4 linked regions of the Homo sapiens genome follow. The protein of the gene in region 1 purifies or fractionates together with the protein of each later gene. This does not show direct contact. Each region holds a gene or a part of one and is shown in the gene's direction. Other genes may lie near its edges.

The links.
Region 2: the proteins of NOP58 (region 1) and NOPCHAP1 purify together in Homo sapiens (affinity purification with mass spectrometry; 2 studies listed by BioGRID and IntAct, with this or other methods). This does not show direct contact.
Region 3: the proteins of NOP58 (region 1) and SNU13 fractionate together in Homo sapiens (co-fractionation; 3 studies listed by BioGRID and IntAct, with this or other methods). This does not show direct contact.
Region 4: the proteins of NOP58 (region 1) and DCAF13 purify together in Homo sapiens (affinity purification with mass spectrometry; 2 studies listed by BioGRID, with this or other methods). This does not show direct contact.

The regions. Positions count from the first base shown.
Region 1 is NC_000002.12:202,268,756-202,275,782, forward strand, and holds part of NOP58 (nucleolar protein 58), read left to right. Parts: intron 1-6,357; coding exon 6,358-6,434; intron 6,435-7,027. UniProt on the Homo sapiens protein: Required for the biogenesis of box C/D snoRNAs such as U3, U8 and U14 snoRNAs. Part of the small subunit (SSU) processome, first precursor of the small eukaryotic ribosomal subunit.
Region 2 is NC_000012.12:104,989,316-104,996,342, forward strand, and holds part of NOPCHAP1 (NOP protein chaperone 1), read left to right. Parts: intron 1-2,396; coding exon 2,397-2,533; intron 2,534-5,162; coding exon 5,163-5,381; 3' UTR 5,382-7,027. UniProt on the Homo sapiens protein: Client-loading PAQosome/R2TP complex cofactor that selects NOP58 to promote box C/D small nucleolar ribonucleoprotein (snoRNP) assembly. Acts as a bridge between NOP58 and the R2TP complex via RUVBL1:RUVBL2.
Region 3 is NC_000022.11:41,685,864-41,692,827, reverse strand, and holds the start of SNU13 (NHP2-like protein 1), read left to right. Parts: upstream 1-4,031; coding exon 4,032-4,034; intron 4,035-4,500; coding exon of another isoform or gene 4,501-4,600; exon of another isoform or gene 4,601-5,110; intron 5,111-6,964.
Region 4 is NC_000008.11:103,432,378-103,439,404, forward strand, and holds part of DCAF13 (DDB1- and CUL4-associated factor 13), read left to right. Parts: intron 1-281; coding exon 282-364; intron 365-3,248; coding exon 3,249-3,413; intron 3,414-7,027. UniProt on the Homo sapiens protein: Part of the small subunit (SSU) processome, first precursor of the small eukaryotic ribosomal subunit.

The DNA.
Region 1 (7,027 bases):
CATGCACCACCACGCCCAGCTAATTTTGTATGTTTAGTAGTGACAGGGTTTCTCCATGTTGAGGCTGGTCTCGAACTCCTGACCTCAGGTGATCTGCCCGCCTCAGCCTCCCAAAGTGCTGGGATTACAGGCGTGAGCCACTGCACCTGGCCTTGAAGTTTTTTTTAAACTTCCATTTACAGTGAGGAAAACATTTTATGTATAACCCATGTACACATACAAATTCATGTTTATGTATTTAAAATTTATTTTGAGGCAGGGTCTTGCTCTGTCACCCAGGCTGGGGTGCAGTGGCAGGATCATGGCTCATTGCAGCCTTGGCCTCCTGGGTCAAGTGATCCTCCCACCTCCTCCCGAGTAGCTGGGACTACAGGCTCAAGCCACCATGCCTGGCTAATTATTTATTTATTTGTATTTGTATTTATTTATTTTTTGAGATGGAGTCTCACTCTGTTGCCCAGGCTGGAGTGCAGTGGTGTGATCTCGGCTCACTGCAACCTCCGCCTCCTGGGTTCAAACGATTTTCCTGCCTCAGCCTCCCAAGTAGCTGGGATTACAGGCGTGAGCCACCATGCCTGGCCTAAATTTTTTTTTTTTTTTTTAAGAGGCAGAGTCTCACTATGTTGCCTAGGCTGGTCTCAAACTCCTGGCCTCAAGGTGCTGGGATTACAGCCATGAGGTACGGTGTTCTGCCCACTTATGTGTTTAGAGCGATTCAAAAGGAAAACACTTCCAAAAAGTTATTGCTCATTAACAGGGTTATATATATATAAATGTAAAGACATTGTGTAAAGGAACTGTTGTGATTAATTCTAGGATATTATAAAAATTCAGCCTGTGGCCGAGAGCAGTGGCTCACGCCTGTAACCCCAGCTACTTGGAAGGCTGAGGCAGGACAATCAGTTGAACCTAGGAGCAGAGGTTGCAATGAGCTGCGGTCGCGCCACTGCAGTGCAGCCTGGGCGACAGGGCAAGACTCCGTCTCAAAAAAAAGAAAAAAAGAAAAAAAGAAATTCCACCTGTGTCCTTGTGTCACGTGGCACACAGCATAAGATTTTAGTCTTGCTCATACCAGACTTCCTTCAGCTGCTCTTCCATGTGGTAGCCATTAGTACGTATAACCATTTCACATGAGATGTAACTGATAGGACTGAGGAAGTGAATTTTAACTTACTTGAATTTTAATGGTTATATTGTACAGTGTAGCTGTGTAGCATAGCATTTTGTGTCACTTCATTTTCTCAAGGTTTGGAGAAAGATTTTTGATGTACATACCAAATGTCTATATAAAACCTAAGTACTGAGCAATATATTTTTTCTAACTTTATTGGGTGTACTTTACATACTGTATAACTCACCTATAGGTTTTAGTTACAATCCAGTTTTATAGTACACTTTGTTGCAAAAAGTTCTCATGCCCATTTTCAAGTTAGTCCTGCTCTAGACAACCACTGTTCAGCTTTCTTTTTGCATAATTTTTTCTAGAAGTTTCATGTAAGTGGAGTAGTATTTTAGTCTTTTGTGTTTGGCTTTTTTCACTTAGTGTAATGCTTCTGAAGCTAACCGAAGAGCTTTTTCACATTTGTTGCGTGTATGGATTTGTTTCTTTTTGAGCAGTGCACATTTTAAACTAATTATCAGTTTTATCCTGTATTTAAACAAGTTTCATAAAATATTAACTTGCTCATATTGTCTGTGGAAGTGAAACTTAAAAGTTAGCATCAAATAATTTACACAAAACATAGAGGTTGGGTGCAGTGGCTCACGCCTGTCACCCTAACACTTTGGGAGGGTGAAGCAGGAGGATTGTTTGAGCCCAGGAGTTGCAGACCAGCCTGGGCAACATGGCGGAAAAAAAATTAGCTGGGCACAGTGGTGCTTGCCTGTAGTCCCAGCTGCTGCAGGAGGCTGAGGTGGGAGGGAGGTCACGGCTGCAGTGAGCTGTGATTGAGCCTCTGCACTTTAGCCTGGACAACAGAGTGAGACCTCATCTCAAAACAAAACAAAAACCACACAAAGTCTCAAGCAATCAATTAAAAATGAAAATGAGGAGGCTGGACATGGTGGCTCACACCTGTAATCCCAGCACTTTGGAAGGCTGGGGTGGGCAGATCATGAGGTCAGGAGTTTGAAACCAGCCTGGCCAACATAGTGAAACCCCGTCTCTACTAAAAATACAAAAATTAGCCGGGCATGGTGGTGTGTGTCGCCAAATCTGTAGTCCCAGCTGAGGCAGGAGGATCGCTTGAACCAGGGAGGTGGAGGTTGCAGTGAGAAGACCGCGCCTCTGCACTCCCCAGCCTGCGTGACAGGGCGAGACACTGTCTCAAAAAAAAACAAAAAAAGTGATTAAAATTCTTAATTCCATATACCCTCACCAATATTCTGTATCAGCTGCCCAAGTATTAGATAGGATGGGCTCAATCCTAAAAGGCACAACCCCCATATTTAACATCCCTAAAATTGGGATGTCTTACAATTGATGACAGGTCAATTGGGAGTGTAAAAGAATAACATAAGCTGGGTGTGGTGGCTCACGCCTGTCATCCCAGTACTTTGGGAGGCTGAGGCAGGTAGATTGCCAGACCTCAGGAGTTCGAGACCAGCCTGGGCAACAGGGTGCAACCCCGACTTTACTAAAATACAAAAAAAAAAAAAAAAATTAGCCAGGCATGGCAGCATGTGCCTGTAATCCCAGCTACTTGGGAGGCTGAGGCAGGAGAGTTGCTTTAACCAGGGAGGTGGAGGTTGTAGTGAGCTGAGATCACGCCACTGCGGTCCAGCCTGGCCGACAGAGCGCAAGACTCCGTCTCAAAAATAAAAAAAAAAAGAATAGCATGTTAAATTTTGTGAAATAGAGTATGCACAGATATTATGCATATATTTTTATTTAAAAAACCAGCTGGATCAGGCGCCATGGTTCCTTCCTGCACTCCCAGCACTTTGAGAGGCCAAGGCAAGAGGATCACTTGAGTCCAGAAGTTAGAGATCAGCCTGGGCAACAAAGCAAGCCCCTGTCTCTACAAAAAGATTTTTAAAAGAGCTAGATGTCGCAGTGTGCACCTATAGTCCTAGCTACTTGGGAGGCCGAGGCAGAAGAATCGCTTGAGGCCAGGAGTTTGAAGCTGTAGTGACATAGGACCACACCACTCCACTCCAGCCTGGACAACAAAGCGAGACCCTGTCTCTGGAAAAACAACACAGCTAGTAAATTTAAAACTATACTTTGCTAATAAGCATTATTTATCAAGTCCATAATATAGCACATCTACACATTAAGACGCAGTTCTAGTCTGGTTATATATTATTTTCAGTAAGAGAAACACAATGTTGCAAGTTGTATAAAACTTAGATGAGTGACAAGATGATTTTAGGGGTTTGTTCTGATGTATAATTTTTTTTTTTTTTTTTTTTTTGAGACGGAGTCTTGCTGTCGCCCAGGCTGGAGTGCAGTGGCGCGATCTCAGCTCACTGCAGGCTCCGCCCCCTGGGGTTCACGCCATTCTGTTGCCTCAGCCTCCCGAGTAGCTGGAACTACAGGCGCCTTCCACCTCGCCCAGCTAATTTTTTTGTATTTTTAGTTAGAGGCGGGGTTTCACCGTGTTAGCTAGGATGGTCTCGATCTCCTGACCTCGTGATTCGCCCGCCTCAGCCTCCCAGAGTGCTGGGATTACAGGCATGAGCCACCGTGCCCAGCCTGTATAAATTTAATCACACATGGTTGAATTAGATATGTTGGTAAAAATAACCCAAACTAGAAAAACTTAGAGTCACACAAAGCAATAAACAACTACAAAGCCTAGAGTTGGTATTAACAATTTATAAACTAATAGCTCTAACTTTGTATATCATGAAGTTTTAGAATCCAGAGACACCTCACCAAGTCTCATGACTATACTGAAAACACTGATTAAAATTTTTTGAAATTGTTCAGAGAATGCAGCTAACCATAACTGAAGTTCACTATTTTTAAGAGGACATGTATCAAATAGGGGATATGACTCATGAGTAAAATTCACATTTTTTCTAGCTGAAAAGCAAGTATATTTGAAGATAACATTTGGGTAACAAAATTGCCATATTTAAAAGATACTTTCGGCCTGGCGGGGTGGCTCACGCCTGTAATCCCAACACTTTGGGAGGCCGAGGTGGGTGCATCATGAGGTCAGGAGATCGAGACTATCCTGGCTAACACGGTGAAACCCCATCTCTACTAAAAATACAAAAAATTAGCCAGGTGTGGTGGCAGGCGCCTGTAGTCCTGGAGGCTGAGGCAGGAGAATGACGTGAACCCAGGAGGTGGAGCTTGCAGTGAGCCGAGATCCTGCCATTGCACTCCAGCCTGGGCGACAGAGCGAGACTCCGTCTCAATAAATAAATAAATTAATTAAAAAATACTATCACCATTCTAAAACTGAAGTTAAAATAACAAAGGAAATGTGATAAAATCAGGGCAATTCATGAGCACACAAAGGTCTTCAAAGACTATGTTATGTCAGCCAAAACCATTACTATGACAAATAAAACCATTGTGTTCCCAACTGCAACATCTTGAAGAAAACATTGCTAATAAAGACCATCTAAATAAGAAAGTTAGAGATATTGCTACATTTTCTGTATTACATTTGTCTCAAAGTTTTTATTTGTCTCAAATTTTTAATCATTTCTTTTCAGCCAGGGTAATGATAAATATTTGTATACAGAAATCCATTTTAAGTTTTATCATTTTAAGATAATTTCCATTTCTAAGTAGAAATAGTATACAACTATTACCATTGCAATCTTTAGCATTGTTGTTACAACAGTACTAGTTTTAAAACAAGTCTTTATATTTTATAGATACAAACTGAAATATTAACAGGTAAAAATTAAATGTCTAGGTCTTGCTTCAAAACAATACAAGGCGGCTGGGTGTGTTGGCTCACGCCTGTAATCCCAACGCTTTGGGAGGCCGAGGCAGGTGGATCACCTGATGTCAGGAGTTCAAGACCAGCCTGGCCAACTTGGTGAAACCCAGTCTCTACTAAAAATACAAAAACTAGTTGGGTGTTGTGGTGCGTGCCTGTAATCCCAGCTATTCAGGAGACTGAGGCAGGAGAATCGCTTGAACCCGGGAGGCGGAGGCTGCAGTGTGCCGAGATTGCGCCACTGCACTCCAGCCTGGCGACAGAGTGAGACTCCATCTCAGAAAAAAAAAAAAAAAGCCATTTACTGTGATTCCTAAAAGTATGCATGAACATGTGTTGCACAGACATTCAAAGTCTTGGAGAATATATACCTAAATGTTGATAAGTATATTGTTGATTAAAGTACCCTATGTTTCTTTTGCATTTAAAAAATTTCTCACATCTAGATGTGTCTCACAATTGACGATAGTTTTAGAGAAATCCATAATACTTTCATGTTAGGATGATCATAGCAGTAAATAACGAATATAATCTATTGAAAGTAGACAAAAGTTTTTTTTGTTTTTTGTTTTATTTTTTTGAGATGGAGTTTTTTGCTCTTGTTGCCCAGGTTGGAGTGCAGTCGCGCAATCTCGGCTCACTGCAACCTCTGCCTCCGGGTTCAAGCAATTCTCCTGCCTCAGCCTCCCGAGTGGCGGGGATTACAGGCATGTGCCACCACGCCCAGCTAATTTTGTATTTTTTTTTTTTTTTTTTTTTTGTAGAGACGGGGTTTCTCCATGTTGATCAGGCTGGTCTTGAACTCCTGACCTCAGGTGATCCGCCTGCCTCAGCCTCCCAAAGTGCTGGGATTACAGATGTGAGCCACCATGCTTGGCGCAAATTAAAGTTTTTAATGATTACAATACTTTACTGTAAAGGGATTAATGGCTCTTTTAAAAGAAAGGTTCTCGGCCAGGTGCAGTGGTGCACACCTGTAATCCCAGCTACTCAGGAGGCCGAGGCACTAGAATCTCATAAACCCAGGAGGTGAAGGTTGCAGTGAGCCAGGATTGCTCCACTGCACTCCAGGCTGGGCTACAGAGCGAGACTCCATCTCAAAAAAATAAAAAGAAAGGTTCCCTGCCCTACCCCCTAGGACCCCATAGCTCCAGCTACGGCCCAAGGCTGGGGCAGGAATATCTCTTGAGGCCAGGTAGATTCTAGACTGAATAGCCACTGTACTACAGCTGACTGGACTAGATCTGAATTCCATTTAGCTGTTAAATGGGCAATTCGAACTAGTAATTTGACCAAAATTACATGCAGGGTAAGAAAACTAGTTCATTATCTTAGTGAAAGAAATAGCTTCTACACCTTCATTTTACATGTAAAATTGTATTTGAAGAATGCAGCTGTATATGCCTCACCTGTACCATTTAAATAAAACTATTTAAACATTTTATTACAGGTTCTAAATGAGAAGAAACTTCAAGAGGTTGATAGTTTATGGAAAGAATTTGAAACTCCAGAGAAAGCAAACAAAATGTAAGTACTCTTGAAATCAATAATTTAGCAGTTAACATTTAGGGCTTGTTTTATTTTTTACATTTTTCCCTGATTTATATAATGTTACATTCGTAGTTTTCTGTTTTGAAATCTGTTTCAGGAATAATTTTGGTATGAACCTAATTATTACAAATGTTTTACTTGGAATATAGGCCATCTCAATTAATTTGAAGGCAGTAGTCTCCCCCTTACCCACAGGGATTATGTTCCAGAAGACCCTGTGGATACTTTAAACCTCGGATAGTACCAAATGTGATTGCTGTCAGTAGGAACACATTTGTCTTCGTGTCTTCCACACACAAATGTAATACCTTTTTTATCTTAACTAAGCACTTACCGCACACAGGGGTTGTAACCTGCTTTTTGAGTTTTGCAACATCAAAACTAGCATGAACTACTTTTTCTTTCATCACAATTTCATGGAAGATTCATTCTTAGTGTAGATGTTAAATCTTTGGTTTTTTTGTTTGTTTTTTGAGACAGAGTCTTGTTCTGTCACCTAGGCTGGAGTACAATGGCGCAATCTCTGCTCACTGCAACCTCCGCCTCCTGGGTTCAAGCTATTCTTCTGC
Region 2 (7,027 bases), on another chromosome or scaffold:
GATAGACTTACCAGCCTTTGTGTGTCTGAGAAAGTATTTTGCTTTCAGTTTTTGGAAGATGCTTTAATGGATTTAGAATTCTAGGTTGACAGTGTGGTTTTTTGCTTTTTCTGTTTTCTCCAGTACTTTAAAGACATCACTACACTTTCTTTTCAGTGGCATTGTTTCTGACGCCAGTGTCTACTGTCATTTTGTGTCATGAATATGGTGTTTCTTTTCTTCTCTGGCTGCCTTTAAGATTCCCTTCATTACTGGTTTTTACCGATTTTATGGTGATGTGCCCTTTGTAGTTTTCTTTGTGAGTCTTGAGCTTGGGTTTGTTGAACTTACTGGATCTATGGGTTTATAATTTTTATCAAATTTGGGAAATTTTTAGGGATGTTGTTGTTGCTTGCTCCTGTCTCGCCTCTCCTGAAGGGACTCCAATGACACCTAATTTTGCCAGTTGAGGTTGTCTCACAGCTCATTGATTGTTTGTTTGGGTCTTATGTTTTGTGTGTTTCAATTTGGATAGCTTCTATCGCTGATTTCGTTGAGTTCACTATTCTTCTATATTGTCTAATCTGTTAATTCTATCAAATGTATTTTTTCAAGGTAGATACAGTTTCCATCTCTAGAAGTTTGAGACTGTTTACATCTTTTTTTCTTTCCTTGTGTTTGTGCTTTTCTTTTCTTCCTTGAACATACAAAGTATATTTCTAAGAGCTGTTTTAACATTCTTATTGCTGATTCTGTCGTCTGCATCATTTCTGAATCTTTTTTCCCTACTCTTTATGGATTATGTTTTCCTGTTTATTTGCATGTTTGCTAATTTTTTATTAGATGTTGGACATTTTGAATATTATGGTGTTGTGTGTTGAGTATTATTTAATTTAGAAGAACCACGACTGGACTAGCCTCAGGGTTCAGCATATACTCTCCTAGAGTACCACGGAATTATTTGGCTTCTGAGGATCACAGTTCAGGCCGCACATTTTGGTACTTGTTTTGCTCTACTTGATTCATTAGTTGGAAACAAAAGCAGTACCAGATTTTCTATCTGTAGCAATATATTTAAATCTGAGGACAGAGAAATACCTTTATTTGTATTAGTAATTTCTCTTTCTGTAATCTGAAGGGGAATGAGAGCTAACATTCACTATTACGTCGGGCTTTATTTGTGTGCATGCTCTTAGGGAGTCCTTCCAGCACCTTATTTTACAAATAGAGGTCGTCTACTTGACCTTGGCCACTATTTTCTTTTCTTCTTCCATACGCTGGACATTTTAGTCATCTGTTATGTAGCCATAGCAGTTACATAAGTTTTGAGAGTCTGTTATATGCGTGGTTATGTGCTGGGCCTCTTTTGAGAGAGAAAATAAATATCCTTGTTTGTTGACTGCTCTGTATTTGGCACAGTGACTGACAGTTATCACTCCTCTTTTATGGATTAGTACGCTGAGGTTTCAAGAGGTAGAATTAAATGTATTAATTAGGATTCTTGGTTGCAAATGACTAAAATCCAGCTCAGATTGCCTTAAGCAAAAAAAGAAATTATGTTGGCTCTTTTTATTGGGGGAAAAATACTCCAGGCACAGTAGATTTCAGGTGCATCTGGATCCAGGTGCTCAGTGTCCTCAGAGGTCAGCCACTCTGTCTCTTAGTTCTGCTTTCCTGGGTATTGGCCTAATCTAGAGCGTACTCTTCCCCCAGGTGTGGAGAGTTGCCAGTTTATCAGCAGCTTCAGCCTTATATTCAGCCAACTCAGTCATTCACTCAGAAAGATTTCTCTCTCAACAGTTCCAACAAAAGGTCCTGAGTGATCTATTATTGGCCCGACTAGAGCAGCGTGTCACTGTGATGCCACTAAAGCATGGTACAGTGGCCAAGGATATGGAGGATGTAGGCATGTATGGGGTGAGGGGCAAGAGTGACTAAGAGTGACACAAGCTTAAAAGGAAAGCCAGGGTTATATTATCAGAAGAAAGGGAACGTATGTTGGGTAGGCAGAAATAACCACTACTTAATTAACTGGCCCAAGGTAATTCAGATAGAGGTAGAACTAGGATTCTGTACATACCTAGTTATTCGTACCCTAAAGCCTCAGAACCTGGTGCTCTTAACTGTTAAGTCACACTGCCTCCCTATTTAGTTACTATTTGTTGAATGCCAGCCTTCTAGGAGTTTACAGTCCTGGGGATATATGAGAAACATAAAACATTTGTGAAACAATTGCTGGATTGTGTAGTCCTACTGTTTTATTCAGAAGAGGATGGAGGGTTTTTAAATGAAGGGAACTAAAAGATATGTAATTATGGTTGTTATTATTAATACTCAATTCAGAAGTGTTTATAGGAAATCCTGGGTTTCAGAATTTACTAGCATAAATGTTGATATGCTGTATTTACTTTCCACAGTATTGGACCAGGTACAGACATTTCTCCCACAGATGGCACGGGCAAATGAAAAGCTAAGAAAAGAAATGGCAGCTGCACCACCTGGTCGTTTCAATATTGAAAACATTGATGGGCCTCATAGTAAAGTTATACAAATGGTAACTATGCTTTGTTTTCATATGGTGAAATTACTGGTCTGCCTGTCACCTAAGAAGAAGAGAACTTTTCCATTTTATTTTCAAGTTTTCATTTTCCTGGTGTTAGCTCATGTTTCCAATGTTGTATAGGTACATAGTCATTTTATGATTTAGTCATTTTAGTCATATGATGTCACAGGAAGGTTTTTTTTCCTAAGTCAAATGCTACATTTGTTATTCTGAAGCATTAATTTACTCGATGTCCTAACTGGGTTTTTTTCTGTCCAAGCCCCAAAAGAGGTAATCATAGCCTGATTTATTGAGTATGCAAAAATAAATGATGTGTGGAAGAGAGCAATTGATTACATAAGCTATGTGCAAAAATGTTCTCTCAGTTTATACTCATATCTTGTTTCTGCAGTGGAATTCCGTTTATAATATCTGTGTCTGGACCAAGCTGAGACAATTGTTAATAATATCTAATTCATTAGCCATTCTATTCAGCTCTCCCTCCAGAATAGATCCCAAATCCAACCACTTTGTACAACCTCTGCAGTTCCTTTGGACCTTTGTTGGCCCAGGTAATTATGGCCTCTCCTTTGGAGTATTGCAGCAATTTCTTAGCAGGTTTTCCTGCGTTCACTGTGCCTTCCCTGGGGTCCGTTGTTCACACAGTTTGGGACCTGGGGGCTTCCCATCACGTTTCAAATAAACTAAGTCCTTCAAAGGGTCCATATGATCCTGCCTGCAGTTCTCTATCTCAGAGGTTCCCAACCCCCAGGCTGTGGACTGGTACTGGTCTGTGGCCTGTTAGGAAGCAGGTCGCACAGCAGGAGGTGAGCGGTGGGTGAGAGCGCATTACCACCTGAGTTCTGCCTCCTGTCAGATCAGCAGTGGCATTAGATTCCAAAAGGAGCGTGAACCCTATTATGAACTGTGCATGTAAGGGATCCAGGTTGTTGTGCGCTCTTTATGAGATTCTAATGCCTGATGATCTGAGGTGGAACAGTTTCATCCCCAAAACATCCCTGCCAAGGTCCGTGGAAGAATTTTCTTCCACAAAACTGGTCCCTGGTACCAAAGAGGTTGGGCACTGCTGCTCTGTCTGACCTTATCTCCTACACAGTCCTCATTTACTGCCCTCCAGCACCAGTCTCACTGCAGCCGGTCTTCTCCCCTGCGGTTTTCTCAGGTAGAATGCTTTTCCCTAGATTTCTCCATTTCGACTCCCTCTGTTTCTTTTCAGTCGTCACCTGATCAGGAGGCCTTCCCTGATAGCTGTATTATTATTTTATCCTGCTTTATTTTTCCATATTTTCACAACCCTACATTATGCTTTATATGTATTTGTTTATTGCCTTTCTTTCGCCTCTGGAACAAGAGTCAACAAATGTTTCTGTAAGAGGTCAGATAGTAAATACATTAGGTTCTGTGGGCCTTACTGTCTCTGTTGTGACTGGTGAACTCTGCTGTCATAGTGTGAAAGCAGCCACTGACAATACATACATGAATAAGCAAGGGGAAAACATTTTATTGGGGAAAAAAAACCTCCAGGATTGGTGATTTCAGGTGCACCTGGATCCAGGTGCTCAGTGTCCTCAGTGGTCAGCCGCTCTGTCTCTTGGTTCTGCTTTCCTAATGTTGACCTAATCTAGAGCATGCTCTTCCCCCAGCTGTGGTAGGTTTCTGGTTTATCAGCAGCTTCAGCCTTAGAGTCAGCAACTCAGATTTCTCTCTCAACAGTTCCAACAGAAGGCCCCGAGTGATCGCTTATTGGCTCAATTAGAGCAGTGCGTCACTGTGTATGGGTGCTGAAATGAGAATTTCATATAATTTTCACCTTTCGTGAATAGCAGTATTTTAATTTTTTTCCCCCAACCACTTAAAAATAGAAAAAACATTCCTACTTTGTGAGCTGAACAAAAGTAGGCGGTGGGCAGGATTTGGCCTGCAGGTTGTAATTTACTGGTCTCTGCCTGAAAATGTAAATTTCACCAAAGCGAGGGGTTTGTTTTGATTTTTTTATTGTTATTGAGTCTCTAGTACCTAGTGTAGTGCCTAACTCATGTTAGTATTTGCTGAAAGAATGTTGTTGAATGTGTTTAGGGTATATAGAATTGGGCCGTAGCAGATATTTTAGACACTTAGAGTAAATTTAAATCATCATTATGACAGACCCTGGTAACTAAAAATATAAAAGAGCCATGTTGTATTAAAAACATTTCTTATCCTTGTGGCCTGGTGTGCTGTCTCATGCCTGTAATTGCAGCGCTTTGGGAGGGCAAGGTGGGTGGATCATTTGAGGTCAGGAGTTCAAGACCAGCCTGGCCAACAGGGTGAAACCCCATCTCTACTGAAAATACAAAAATTAGCTGGATGTGATGGGGCACACCTGTAGTCCCAGCTACTCAGGAGGCTGAGAGGCACAAGAATTGCTTGAGCCCAGGAGGCGGAGGGGGCAGTGAGCTGAGATCACACCACTGCACTCCAGTCTGGGCAGCAGAGCAAGACTCTGTCTCCAAAAAAAACCAAATTCTTATCCTTTATGTTTCAATATGTTTGCTGAATGTTGGTTCTTCCCAATATTGTTTTATTACGACTTTTTAAGGAACTGCTCTGAAATAGATTTCCTGTCCACTACTTTTTGCAGGATGTGGCTTTGTTTGAGATGAATCAGTCGGATTCAAAAGAAGTGGACAGTTCAGAAGAGAGTTCACAAGACAGTTCAGAGAACAGTTCAGAATCAGAAGACGAAGATGACAGCATCCCATCTGAAGTCACCATAGATAACATTAAGCTTCCCAATTCTGAAGGTGGAAAAGGCAAGATTGAAGTTTTGGACAGTCCAGCAAGTAAAAAAAAGAAATAGTCAAATAAATTATCTGAAAAGAAACAGGTGACATATGTCTGCAAATTCTGTGAAAAAGAATGTGATTCACGGGTTCTTTTGCTTTTCAGGCACCTATGGTGCTTTTATATGTTAAAAACTTTAGACAAGTTAAATTTGACAGAGTTTCTTTGGGCAAAGAATGATTAATGAGTTAGGTAGCATTGTAAACTGAAAGGGGTTCAGAGACCTCCGCTCTACAGCAAGGAAAGTGTGCTTTTATCAGCTGAACACAGAAGTAGAGTACAGGAATAACTTGATGGGTTACAGCTAGGTGTTTGCCTAAATAAGGCAAAGAGGAGACCTAAGGCTGCCTGATGTCCCATAGGTATGGTCTGATCTAAGGAGATCTAAGGCTGCCTTGTCCGATGGGCTGAGGCTTGGCTGTTTGTGATTGGCCAGACTTGGCTATTTGTTATAAAAATACACTCCTGAGTTAGGTTTTGGTGTGTAGAGTACAGGAATAACTTGATGGGTTACAGCTAGGTGTTTGCCTAAATAAGGCAAAGAGGAGACCTAAGCCCAGCATGTCGTCCACTGTTTGGGATGCCTGCAAACTAACCATTAGCTCCTCCTGCAAACATCATGTGTTCTGTTCCCTTGAGAAATTTCTTTCATGCATATGGTGGCAGTGTCCAAAGAAACAATAGTGTCAGCTACAAATTGTATTGAATTTTCTGTAGTAGCAAAATCTGGAAAAATAGGTACAACATTCAGTTTTGTTTAGCACCATACATAACCCCCAACATGAGCAAAGAGGAGATCTAAGGCTGCATGATATCCCATTAAGTGCTTTTGTTAAATGCTTTCAGAGGGTGGCTCCTACCCCAGGAGGTCTGGTTGGTCATAAAATAAGATTTTTCCCTATCTGTGCATTAGTTTTAAATTCCATATGACTAGCACCCAACCACTACAAAGAGTGAGTCCCCAGGAGCCCCACTGTAATCTTTCCTCAGTGGAAACTAGCATATCTTTTTTTTTTTCGAGATGGAGTCTTGCTCTGTTGCTCAGGCTGGAGTGCAGTGGCGCGATCTCAGCTCACTACAAGCTCTGCCTCCCGGGTTCACGCCATTCTCCTGCCTCAGCCTCCTCAGTAGCTGGGAGTACAGGCGCCCACCACCATGCCCGGCTAATTTTTTTTTTTTTTGTATTTTTAGTAGAGACGGGATTTCACCGTGTTAGCCAGGATGGTCTCAATCTCCTGACCTCGTGTTCCACCCTTCTTGACCTGCCAAAGTGTTGGGATTACAGGCATGAGCCACCGTGCCCGGCTGGAAACTAGCTTATCTTTATTTTCTTCATCTATTCCAAGGTTGGTGCAAATTTCAATTGCTGACCATTTTAGACTCTGATAATAGGAGGTATTTATGGGGACTTTTGGGGAAGCTATTTGGAAGGCAGGATTGAACCATGCCAAATAGCAAGATCCTAACCAGTGGGGAGCAAAATGGAGTAAGCATATTTTCTGTAGACCAATACAGGCAGACCCTCTGAGGCTGGAAAAGAGGGCTACCTAGTGGTATTTGAGCATCAGTCAGTTCAGTTCATCCACTGGTACATCTGCATAGCTCCTGAACAAGGTCCAGGAGGAAACTTACTTTTTTATAGTTCCCCTCCTTTTAAAAAGA
Region 3 (6,964 bases), on another chromosome or scaffold:
TTGCTTGAACCCAGGAGGCGGAGGTTGCAGTGAGCCAAGATCACGCCACTGCAGTCCAGCCTGGGTGACAGAGCGTGACTCCATCTGAAAAAAAAAAAAAAAGAAGAGGCTGGGTGCACTGGCTCACGCCTGTAATCCCAGCACTTTGGGAGGTCGAGGTGGGCGGATCACAAGGTCAGGAGATTGAGACCATCCTGGCTAACACGATGAAACCCCGTCTCTACTAAAAATACAAAAAAAAAAAAAAAATTGGCCAGGCATGGTGGCGGGCACCTGTAGTCCCAGCTACTCAGGAGGCTTAGGCAGGAGAATGGCATGAACCCGGGAGGTGGAGCTTTCAGTGGGCCGAGATCGCGCCACTGCACTCCAGTCTGGGTGACAGAGCAAGACTCCGTCTCAAAGAAAGAAAGAAAGAAAGAAAGAAATCCAGAGTCGACCAGGCGTGGTGGCTCACACCTGTAATCCCAACGCTTTGGGAGGCCAAGGTGGGTGGATCACTTGAGGTCAGGAGTTCGAGACCAGCCAGACCAACATGGTGAAACCCTGTGTCTACTAAAAATACAAAAATTAGCTGTGCGTGGTGGCACATGCCTGTAATCCCAGCTACTAGGGAGGCAGAGTCAAGAGAATCACTTGAACCTGGGAGGCAGAGGTTGCTGTGAGCCGAGATCGCACCACTGGACTTTAGCCTGGGCCACACAGCAAGACTCCATCTCAAAAAAAAAAAAAAAAGAAAAGAAAAAAAAGAAAAACAAGAAAGAAATCTGCAGAGTTGGCTAGGAGTGGTGGCTCATTCCTGTAATCCCAGCACTTTGGGAGGCCAAGGCAGGCGGATCACATAAGGACGGGAGTTCGAGACCAGCATGACTAACACGGAGAAACCTCGCCTCTACTAAAAATACAAAATTAACGGGTGTGGTAGTGCATGCCCATAATCCCAGCTACTCAGGAGGCTGAGGCAGGAGAATTGCTTGAACTTGGGAGGCAGAGGTTGAGGTAAGCCGAGATCACACCATTGCACTCCAGCCTGGGCAACAAGAGCAAAACTGCATCTCAAAAAAAAAAAAAGGAAAAGAAAAGGAAATCCGCAGAGTTGTGACTAAAACTTCTGGGCTGCTGGTAATCATTTGTTTCTTAATCTGCATGCTACAAACTGATGTATTCAATTATGAAAATTTACTGATCTACACACTTGTAATTGTGTGTGTGTATTATCCTTGGACCAATTTTTTTTTTTAAAAGAGAGAAAAAAGAGGCCAGGCACAGTGGCTCACACCTGTAATCCCAGCACTTTGGGAGGCCGAGGCAGGCAGATCACAAGGTCAGGAGCTCGAGACCAGCCTGGCCAACAAAGTGAAACCCCATCTCTACTAAAAGTACAAAAAAAAAAAAAAATTTGCCAGGCGTGGTGGCGGGCGCCTGTAATCCTAGCTACTCGGGAGGCTGAGGCAGGAGAATCGCTTGAACCAGGGAGGCGGAGGTTGCAGCAAACCAAGATCACACCACTGCACACCAGCCCAGGCAACAGTGTGAGACTCTGTCTCAGAAAAAAAAAGAGAGAGAGAGAGAGAGAGAGAGAGAGAAAGAAGAAGGCCATTCTGGTGACTGTATGGAGGATAGGCTGTGGTTGGATAAGAGAAGCAGCAAGAACCAGGCAGAAGGCTGTTGCTATGGTCCAGTTGAGACATGATGGTGTCTCTGCCCAGGAGGGTGTGGTGTGGTTAGAAGTGATCAGATTTGAGATACAATTTGCAAGTATAGCCCCTGGGACCTGCAGATGGATTGAATGTGTGGAGTGAGGGAAAGAGAGGAGCTCAGGGTGACTCCTGGGTTTGGGGCTTGGCCGATGCTCTCCCTGAGCAGCCTGAGTTTCCCTCTGATTCATTTCTGGTACACCAGGCATAAAACAAGGTCCTTGTAACAAGTGACAGAGACAATCATGGTGCTGAGGGAAGAAGGGTGAAGGTGTATGGGGCCCACTCACCTTGATGACATTCCTTGTGCTGAAGCGGGTCCTGGTGACCTGGTGCCAACAGTGCCGGACCTGCCAGACCAGAAAGAGGCAGAGGACAAGCAGGTTGCCACAGCACTGAGGGTCCCTGCAGCTGTGATTCTGGGAGAGCAGGCCCTGCACTGGCTCCCACTCAGGGCCATGGAATGGCCCCACCACAGCACAGGCACCCAGCAGTGACAACAACATGGCAAAGCTTAGATCAGGCAGATGGTGTTGGGAGCTAGAGGGCAGGCCTGGCACATCTGATGCAGCCAGCTGCAGTAGGATAGCCGCCACCTCATAGCACCCCTGTCACTGAGGCCACCTCACAAAGGGGGCTGATGCCCCAGCCTCAACTCTGACCCTGGTGCCAGGCCTGGTTAGCATGCTCTTGGTGCAGGTAAGGACAGTATTGGGGAATTGTTCAAAAGTAATTAGGAGGAAGAACTTGTTTTAAACAAACCCATCCTCTGGAATGAAAAGATTAAGTTCCCTGAATGTGTGATGGGGTGATATAACCTGCGGTCTGCTTGATTTCTTTCTTCCTATGAAATACTTGGATCTGCCTGTCCTTCTATTATCAAACATTTAATGAACACTGTATTGAATACATGTATTCTTGTTTAACCACTCAACATGCCTTTCTCGTTGCTTGCAGTATCCTGATTTCCTGTGGGGGAATTACTTTTCCCATCTTAGGATCAGTGTTGGTGGGAAAATAAATGTTACCCTGAAGACTCTTTTACCCAAAAGTTCTATTCAAAATATTAAATATCTGAGCAGGCAGGGACGTCAGCCAATTATAATGAGCCAGGCCTTAACTGTTTAGTGGCTGGAATTTTTTTTTTTTTTTTTGAGACCGAGTTTCCACTCTTGTTGCCCAGGCTGGAGTGCAATGGCGCGATCTCGGCTCACTGCAACTTCCACCTCCCAAGTTCAAGCGATTCTCCTGCCTCAACCTCCCGAGTAGCTGGGATTACAGGCATGCGCCACCACGCCCGGCTAATTTTGTATTTTTAGTAGAGACGGGGGTTTCTCCATATTGGTCAGGCTGGTATCGAACTCCCAACCTCAGGTGATCCGCCCGCCTCAGCTTCCCAAAGTGCTGGGATTACAGGCGTGAGCCACCGCACCCGGCCCTCTTTTTTTTCTTCTTTTTTTTGAGACGGAGTCTCACTCTGTTGCCCAGGCTGGAGTGCAGTGTGCAGTGGTGCGATCTCGGCTCACTGCAAGCTCCGCCTCCGGGGTTCACGGCATTCTCCTGCCTCGGCCTCCCGAGTAGCTGGGACTACAGGCGCCCGCCACCATGCCCGGCTAATTTTTTGTATTTTTAGTAGAGACGGTTCACTGTGTTAGCCAGGATGGTCTCGATCTCCTGACCTAGTGATCCGCCTGCCTCAGCCTCCCAAAGTGCTGCGATTACAGGCGGGAGCCACCGCACCCGGCCGGCCTTTTTTTTTTTTTTTTTGAGAGTCTCGCTCTGTCGCCTCAGCTGGAGTGCTAGAGTGCAGTGGCATGATCTCAACTTACTGTAGCCTCCACCTCCGGGGTTCAAGCGATTCTCCTGCTTCAGCCTCCTAAGTAGCTGGGGTTACAGGCGCCCGCCACCACGCCTGGCTAATTTTTGTATTTTTTAGTAGGGACGAGGTTTCGCCATGTTGGCCAGGCTGGTCTCGAACTCCTGTCCTCAGGTGATGCGCCCGCCTCGGCCTCCCAAAGTGCCGGGATTACAGCCATAAGCCGCTGCGGCCGGCCGGTGGGTTACTTTTTGAATGTTTAATTCATTGTTTCTGCCAATAATTTGTACTAGGCAGCTCATAAGAACGCCAAAGTACGTTCCTTCTTCGACACAGGGCCAGTTTCCGCGCCAGTGCCCCCGTAGAGGGCGGGGCCCACTCGCTCGCGTAGCGTCACCTTCGCTTCCTGCCGCGCGGGGCCATTTCCGCTGCTGCTTCTGTGAGTTTTTCCGGTGCACGCGAGTGCTTCTGAAACGTCAGCTGCGCTCCCCTAGGAGTGCTGAGCCCGCGGAACCGCAGCCATGGTGAGTGCGTGCGCCGGCCGAGGGACCGGGAAGCGGGAGACTCAGGGTTGCGTTCACTCCCTAGCCTGTTAGATGGAGGCTTAGAGCCTGCGCCGTCTCATCCGCCGGCGTTGGGTCTTAACCGCCGGGCCCTTAGTTAGAACCCCAGCAGCGGCGGGGTCCCAGCAGCCTGGCCCGAGGTTAGAACTCAGGAAACCTTAGGATCCCCGCAGCTGTGTTGCTTTGCCGCACGGTCTGTTTGCTTGGCAAAAGGCCTGCAGCGAGCGGAGGGGGCATGGCCCAGCCTGGGAGAAAGAGACCAACCCACGTGGGAGAGGGCAAAAAGTTGGGTGAAGAAAACTTGGCTCCAACTTTTTTTTTTCCTTGTTTCTTTTCATACGAAATCTACGATGGCGTGGGACCCTGGGATTCGGATCAACCTCTCCTACCCACCCTACCTCACCCCACCCCCGTTGCTGGGGTTCAGGAGGAGATCTCCCATGGGTCTGCGCTTAGTGCCCGCCGCGAGTCACACGCGCCAGGGACCTAGAGGAGCCTTTGGCATTTGGGGGCTGTGGGGAACATGAAGTGAGCGCGACTCACGGCCTGGAGTGCAGGAAAGGCTTCTCCTGCAAGGCGGTGGCTTCAAAAACCAGAAGTCTGGTAGCACCACGTGCGGCGTCTCTAAACTCTTGGTCGTCTCTGACTTTTAAACATCTAGGGAAAGTTCTAAAACGTGTGTCCTGGCGTAGTAGTTTTGGTTGGCACTTGGTGAGGAGGGAAGAATTTGTAAAGCACTGTAACTTCTATAGTTAATCCTTCCAGTGGAGCTTGGATCCCGGCGGTAGCACTCCCCACAAACCTCCTCCCATGCATTTTGAAGCTTAGTACGTGGCTGAGCCTAGAACTTGAAGCTTCCAAACTCAGTGCTCGCTTTAACGCAGCTCCCTGAAACGTTTTGGAATCGGATGGTCTCAGGTTGAACTTTGCAGTTTTCCTCAACTGTAAAATGGGGATGACAGTGCATGAGGGTGTTGTGAGGATCAAATGAAATAAAGCATGGTAAACATCTAGTCCTGATGCTTGGTACAGAGTAAGCACGCAGTATTTGTTGTTCAATCAAAACCTTGCAAGTTTTGGCTGTCTGGTGTACAGCGAAACCAAACTGATCATGCTAGGTAGGGATTTAGGTTGGCTGGTGGTATGATATCATTCGTTAATTTATTTAACCCCTGAAGAAATTGAAAGGCAAATAAATACACCCTAAGCAAGTTTCAATTAGTGTTTATAAGCTAGTTTGGTTTTAAAATTGAGTTTAACTTTTTTGTTGACTAATAGTGAAACATTTAGGTATTTAATGATTGTTCAGATTCCTGAAGTCTTCCTCTTTTATGAATTTGATGTTTATTGAGATTTGAGAATCCTGATTTCCAGAGAATGGGTTGTTGGAAACAATGGCAATTTTTAAAGTTTTTTTAAATTGACATATCATAGTTGTACATACTTTGGGGGTTCCATGTAATATTTCTAAGTATATCTATTTTAAAACATGCAACAGGGCCAGGCGCGGTGGCTCATGCTTGTAATCCCAGCACTTTGGGAGGCTGAGGCGGGTGGATCATGGGGTCCGGAGTTTGAGACCAGCCTGGCCAACATAGTGAAACCCTGTTTCTACTAAAAATTCAAAAAAATTAGCCAGGCGTGGTGGTGGGCACCTGTAATCCCAGCTACTTGGGAGGCTGAGGCAAGGAGAATCGCTTGAACCTGGGAGGCGGGGGTTGCAGTGAGCCAAGATCACACCACTGCACTCCAGCCCGTGTGACAGTTTGAGACTCCGTCTCAAAAAAATAAATAAATAAAACTTGTGATAAATTATTAACCAAAATTTCCAGCTGGGCACGGTGGCTCACGCCTGTAATCCCAGCACTTTGGGAGGCTGAGGCGGGTGGATCATGAGGTCAGGAGTTCAAGACCAGCCTGACCAACATGGTGAAACCCCATCTCTACTAAAAATACAAAAATTAGCCAGGCGTGGTGGTGCGTGCCTGTAATCCCAGCTACTTAGGAGGCTGAGGCAGGAGAATCACTATAACCGGGGAGGCGGTGTTTGCAGTGAGCCGAGATCATGCCACTGCACTACAGCCTGGGTGACAAAGCAAGACTGTGTCAAAGAAAAAAAAAATCCCTACTGTAGTATCAAATAAAACATTTGTATGGCCGGACGTGGTAGCTCACACCTGTAATCCCAGCACTTTGGGAGGCCGAGGCGGGTGGATCACCTTAGGTCAGGAGTTCAACCTGGCCAACATGGTGAAACCCCCATCTCTACTAAAAATACAAAAATTAGCTGGGCGTGGTGGTGCATGCCTGTAGTCCCAGTTACTCGGGAGGCTGAGGCAGGAGAATTCCTTGAATATGGAAGGCAGAGGTTTCGGTGAGCCGAGATTGCGCCACTGCACTCCAGCCTGGGCGACAGAGGGAGATGCCGTCTCTTAAAAAAAAAAAAAAAAGATAAAAGAATAAACTCCAAATCAGTAGAGGGGAAAATAGTGCAAATGCAATGATAAATCCAGAGAAAGGAAAGAAAGAAAAAGAAACAGAACAAGTGGAACAAATAGAAGGCACAAAAGAAGGAAAATTTGAAACCATTATACCAATACTTAAATATGTAAAGGGACTGAGTGCTCCAGTTAAAAGACGGGATGTGGCCAAGCACTGTGGCTCAAGCCTGCAATCCCAGAAATTGGGAGGCTGAGGCGAGAGAATCTCTTTAGCCCAGGAATTGGAGACCACCCAGGGCAAAATAGTGAGATCCTGTCTCTACAAATTTTTTTTTTTTTTTTTTTGAGACAGAGTCTCGCTCTGTCACCCAGGCTGGGTGTGCAGTGGCACGATCTTGACTCACTGAAACCTCTGTCTCCTTGGTTCAAGCGATTCTCCTGTTTCAGCCT
Region 4 (7,027 bases), on another chromosome or scaffold:
TTTGTTACTTTATTGTTTATATTTTAACTTTTATTATGTGTCACATTTTTCTGACTAAACTGTAAGTTGTTTGAGATTAGGAGACTGGGAGTTAAGCATTTCTATTTTTATATTTACTATTCTGCCTGTGTATTTAAGAAGCAATTACTGATTGATTTCTCTTCCCATTGCACTGAGCTGAGTACTTTACACATAATAGGTGTTTATGAAATATTTGCTTAAATCAGTGGGGAAAAGAAAAGGAAAGGAAGTGGGAAATTCATCCATTCTTCCTTTCTCAGGTTATCTTAGATATGAGAACAAATACAATCTGTTGGAACCCTATGGAAGCTTTCATTTTTACAGCAGCAAATGAAGATTATAAGTAAGTTTCCCTCTTTTAAAAACTTGTGTATTTCTATCATGAATGGCTTAATTGTATAAGTCGTACTAATAAAATATATACCACTAGGTAGGTATACCTATAAAGTTTGAAAACTGTCATCTGTTTAGCTTTAAAAAGTTTTCCAAATTGGAGAAGAACTTCTTAGAAAAGTATTTATTTCGTCAGTATTTAGAATGATGTAGACCAGGGACAGTAAACAACTCGTGGACCAAATCCTTTCTGTTGCCTGTTTTTTATAAAGTTTTATTGGAATATGGCCACACCCACTTACTTATTTAGATATTGGATATGGCTGCTTTTGTGCTATAATGCCTGAGTTGAATAGTTGCAGCGGAGACCTTATGGCCCACTTGCCTGAAAATGTTTAACATTTGGCCCTTTACAGAAGAAGTTGGCTGATGTTTGATGTAGGTCTTATAAATAATGACTGAACCATACATGTTTTAATGGAAATGAAAATATCTGCCTGCAATGTTTGTATTGCGGTGAGTATCAGGTAGCTGATGCTCATGTGGTCATGTTATCAGCTATCACTGTTCAGTCAGATGGAAGAAAAATTATAGTTATCTTTTCAGTATCCATATGAGGTAGGTGGGACATGCATGTTATCCCCTTTTTAAGATATTAAAGCGGGGAGATTAGTCTCCCAGGGAGGAAAGAGTATCTTATCTTTTTTTTTCCCAAAGCATTTATTATAGCGCTATGCCTTTGATAGATTCTTAATACATGTTTTTTTTAAGAAGGCAGAAGTTTGTTGGTGGATTGAACTTTAGATCTTTGTATTGTTTTATGTTCCACTATGTAGATTTGGAAGCAAAAAAGTAGTAGTGTTAGCTCATAAAAGGATTTATTATATGATGTTTTAGTGGTACCAACTAAAAGCATCTTTTATGACTTTCTGCTAAAAAGAGGTTTAGTCCAGGAGTTTGAGGTTACAGTGAGTTGTAATTGGGCCACTGCACTCCAGCCTGGCCAACAGAACAAGACCCTGGTGTCTTAAAAAAATAAAAGAAGCTCAGTTAGACTCTCATTAACTAGCAATACCAAACCACAGTAATTGAAGCTTTTTTTTTTAACCTTTATTGATGTTTTGAAATTAAGTGGCATTGTTCCAGTTAAAGGCAATAAAAGACAAGAGTAATACAGCATTATTGTGACCAACCTCATTAAGATTTCTAAAGAATGTTCTAATAAGCTATTTTAGCAAGGTACCGTTTTTCAGAGTGTCCTCGGAATTTCTCATTCCTTGCCTTGAAAAGAATTGCATATGCCACCTGAAACAAAGAGCATATCCCTTATAATAAGTGACTGTTGGAGTATCATAATTGCTCTTTGAAAATGATCTTGCTTTTGTATCCCTTTTCTATATTTGTAAGTATTTTTTTCTTTTATTGCCCTTTAGATATTCTAGTCATTCTGAATTAGAAACCTAAGTTCAAGTCTAGGCCGACCAGTAATTACTGTATAAACTTGGGCAAGTCATTTAAACTAACTCTATATCATAGTTTCAGCATCTGTAAGGTGAGGGTTAGAATAGATGATCCCTAATGAATCCTATAATGTGGAACTTTGTTTATTTAAAGGTTTTCCATGTACACAAATTGATATGCTTAGAATTGGAATTCTTATCATTTTTCCCATGTAGAAATAAAGCATCTTACTAAAAAGCAGTTTGCTGGAACCAAGCAAACCTAGCTGAAAACCACTGTTCTTAGGCAGGAACTGTAAAGCAGTTGTCAATGTCTTACTACTAGTAATGTTAACCTTGATCATTTGGTTAGGGTGGTGTCTGCCAGGTTTCTCCACTAAAGAGTTACTTTTTTTTCCTTTTGTAATTATTATATATCTTTGGGGAGATACTTTGAAACTATGTAGATATCCTCTTCTCAGACTTCTACTCACTAATCTTAGCATCTTCAAGTATTTTTATATTAGGAACTTGGTCACAATATTGCTGTATTACTTTTGTCCATTGTTCATGTTGGTTCATTTGAAGCACTATTCTTTTAGCCATTAGATTAAGAATTTTTGAATCTTGAAACTCATGAAGTCATTGTTTTTACCAATTGTGCATAAAGTATAGTTTCTCATTTTGATTCACCCTTTGAAAGGCCATGTTCACTCTTACATATCACCAGTAGGAGTATAAATTAGTGCAACTTTGTTGGCAGTGATTTGGCAACTCAAATCAAGCCTAAAAATGCTCATGCCTTTAAGCTTAACAATGCTACTTGTAGGAATCTGTCCAGATTTAATTGAACCTGTCCCATTCAGTTAAAGATTGAATGTTAAAAATCCAAACGTTGGGAATTTAATAAGCATTATATATAATAAAATGTTGGAAACTATTAAAATATAGGGAAATAAATTATTTGAACTTATATATACAGCCATTAAAATATTTTCAAAGATTGTTTAATAACATGGGTAATGCTCATTAATATGCTACGTGAAATATCAGAATATAAAGCTTTACATAACATTTCAATTTTATTAAAAGTATGTATTTAAATAGTATGGTGAAAAAGGTTTTTTAAAAAATTATGCTGTACTAAATAACTGGCCTCTGGGTAGTAGAATTCAAGGTAATTTTTGTACTCTACTTTTTTTGAAATTTCCACATTTTCTACAATGAGATTTATAGGGTGGAAAATGTGTTGGTATATATATAAGTGGAGTCTTAAGGAATCATAAAAACTGTTGAAATTTTTCCTTATCCCTCACCTGCTTGTGTACAGCATTGAGCTTTTTGTTTAGATGTGCATTGTTTTGCAAATGGTTCTTGTTTTCAGTGGTATCTTTTAGTACTGCATATGGCATCTTTCTAGAAATATGTGTCAAATATTTAAAAATTCTTTTACAGCTTATATACTTTTGATATGCGTGCACTGGACACTCCTGTAATGGTCCATATGGATCATGTATCTGCAGTGCTTGATGTGGATTACTCTCCCACTGGGAAGGAGTTTGTGTCTGCTAGTTTCGATAAATCTATTCGAATCTTTCCTGTAGACAAAAGTCGAAGCAGGTATGTGCCTACCAGTAAGCCATTTATATTCATATGTCACTTAACAATGGGGATGCATTCTGAGAAATGAGTCATTGGGCGATTTCATCATTGTGTGAACATCATCAGAGTGCACTTAAACAAAACTAGATGGTATAACGTGTTGCACACCTAGGCTGTGTGGTCATATGATATGGCCTGTTGCTTCTAGACTACGAATCTGTTCAGCATGTTACTGTGCTGAATACTGTGGGCAATTGTAACACAGTGGTATTTGTTTATGTAAACATATATAAACACAGGAAAAGTACAGTAAAAATCCAGTATTATCTTAATGGACCACTGTCGTATATGCAGTCTCTCATTGACCAAAATGTCATATGACTATTTTTGTTTCATTTTTCTTTGTCCTGATTATTATTTATCTTTTCTGAGAGGGTACCTGAGTTTAATAAAGTTTTTTGCTCCAATACAGTTTAAGAAAAATTAGTAATAATACTTTACATTTGTTATTTTTTACTTAGTCAAATCCAACTCTGTATGCCAAACCAAAAATTAAAAAAGAAATAAAAGTAAGTTTAAATTGTCAAGACCGTTCTCCCTCTATTTCACTTTAGTAGGTATATGGCTTGGTTGATGAGAGGTTGAGAGGTGGGAGATTTGAATACTCAGCTGTCCCATAGTCTCGTGTGTGTCTCATTTTGTAAGCACATAGAGTGTGATTCTAATATTTAAGATTTTTATTGTGTTTTGTATAGTTTGGCCCTTTACTACATATTATATGTTATTAAATACAGTATCTATTTATACATCTATTATATCTTATTTTTGTAAAGAGGTAGTTTACAGAAAGTGATGGCATTTTAAGGAGTTTGCAAGGGGAATTTTGTTCTCGAGTTTTCACTTTACAGACTGACTTTAAAAACTAAGTCCTGTATAGATACAGCCCCCTGTATAGTGAATTATGGTTTACAAAGAGCTGTTATACACATTCCCATTGTTCCTTAGTAATGCTTTAGATGTGTTCCTGGAAGCATCCATAAAATAAATCCAAATAAATGGAAATAATTTTTCTCAAAAAATTATGATAATTGGATGATCATGGTCATAGTCAATCTGCTTATCTAACTCTTTGCTCTTTTACTTGTGATATTTAAGTCTTTTTCCACTGTAATTTGAGGAAGCCATATGGATTTCTACACCATGTATCGTCATTGTCAGCAGATAATTATCTTCATCACTGTTTATCTGATTATGAAGGTGCTTCAGTTAGAAGCATACTGACAGGAGTGTTCTGATGACTTTGATCTTCATTTCATCATTTCTGTTGTAGAGCTTCTGCTGTGTGTTCCTATGTGACTATTGCTTCCTTTGTTGCTGCCTTGATATTCTCCAAATTGTCATGAGTGTTTTTTTGGCATTATTCACTTAGGCCCAAGGCAAGACTAATAGCTTCCATATTTCTCTCACCTCTGGAAAATGTTGAGAATCAAGAGAATATGGTCCTCCATCATTTCTTGGCACCACAACTTCCAAAGGTAGTAGGATAGTATTTTTCCAACATGGTACATAAGTAGACAAAAGAATGAAACGAGAACAAAGAAAAAAACAGGACTGTGTAGTTACCTATGATCCCAAGGGGCCAGCAGCTGAGTTCAGGCTGAATTATTCCAAAGCTAGTGTGGACAGCTAAATGTAGGTCTAGCTAGAAAACTCACATTATTCCAAAATTGTATAAAAGGGTTCTTATATTTCATTTCTAAGAAATTGTCTCCTGATGTCATTTGGAGGTTTTGTAATCACAGTCTTAATATGTGTTAACGTCCTGTTGTGTTTAGATATAAATGGTGTTCCCTCTGACCTTTGCCTTTATCTGCTTGAAAGCTAGTTCTAATTTGTTTCTGTGGTTTGTTTCCTATCATTATAAACATCAAATAACTCATGCTTGGGTGAATAATCTGTATTTAAAAAATATTTTCCTTTAAAAGACCTTAAAATGGCTAAAGCATATTATTTTTAAAATAAATTTTGAGTAAATTTTTTAAAACTACAGTTAAGTCAGTATTTGAAAGTAGGCTTCTGTTGGAAGTTCATTCAGTATTTACTGAGCAAACAAGTAAATTAATAGTGTTCACATGGAAAAATTAGTGTGACTGTGTATATAAAGAATTTAAGCCTTTAAAAATGTATTTATCTCCTAATAGTAGAACTTTTGGTGAGCTTAATAAACTTAGCATATATGCAGACATAAACATATCTAGAAGTTAAGAACTCAGCATAGTTTACCATTGGGGAGGATTCTCAGTTACTTAAGTGACTAACCGTTGGATCTGACTGGTCTACTGCATGAACAGATTATGTTTAATGGTTACGGAAACCTGATTGAATTTCCCTACTTCAAATGCATTATACTGCTTTGGAAAAAAGGGCTTCTTAGGTATGTGGAGATTATAAGAAATGAGTCTTCAAAAGCAGAGCACTGAGCGGGAGAAGAAAAAGCAGTCTATCTCATCTAGTTTTCATTTTAATAGGACGTTCTTTTTAATCATCCCCTCTCTTTTAAAAATGAATTTCTAATGGTTTATCAAAGTGCTTAAAACATACCTATCAGAAACAGTGTAAAAGACCAGTTTTGTGAGTATAGTCGAGAGATTTTTTTTTTTTTTTTTGAGACAGAGTCTGGCTCTGTCAGCCAGGCTAGAGTGCAGTGATGCCACACGGCTCACTACAGCCCCTGTCTTCTGGGCTCTAGTGATCCTCCTACCTCAGACTCCTGAGCAGCACCACACCTAGCTAATTTTTAAAATTTATCTTTAGTAGCTATGGGGTCTCCCTGTGTTACTCAGGCTGGTCTCAAACTCCTGGGCTCAAGTAATCCTCTCACCAAAGTACTGGGATTATAGGCATGAGCCACTGCACCTTGCCTACTTTAGAGATATTTTTTATAGATATGAATATTTGATTTAGTCATTCTGTTTGAGTTTTATTTTACTGTGCATAGTTTATTGAGCCTGTTTCCTTCCTCTTTATATACTCTGCATTTTGAATAATTTAATCCAGATGCAGAAAATTTATTTCTCCAGAAGTTTCATCTTACTTTTTCTGACCTTGTATTTTACTTGCTTTTTAATGCCTTTCTTAACACTTACTAATATAGTATCACCTGTGAATTCTTCTAGCATATTTCACAGCCTTTCCAAATAGGTATGATATTTGACATCTCCATTTATTAAATGATTCTTTTTTTTCTTTTTTTGAGATGGAGTCTTGCTCTGTTGCCCAGGCTGGAGTGCAGTAGCACGATCTCGGCTCACTGCAAGCTCCGCCTCCTGGGTTCACGCCATTCTGCCTCAGCCTCCCAAGTAGCTGGGACTACAGGCGCCTGCCACCATGCCTGGCTAATTTTTTGCATTTTTAGTAGAGATGGGGTTTCACCTGGTCTCGATCTCCTGACCTCGTGATCCACCTACTGCAGCCTCCCAAAGTGCTGGGATTACAGGTGTGAGCCACCGCACCTGGCTCTATTAAATTATTCTTACCTCAACTTATCAGACACTTCTGTAGTCCTCCCTTCCTTTTCACACATGTAAATCATCAACTCACTTTAATTAAGCTTTTTTTTTTTTTTTTTTTTT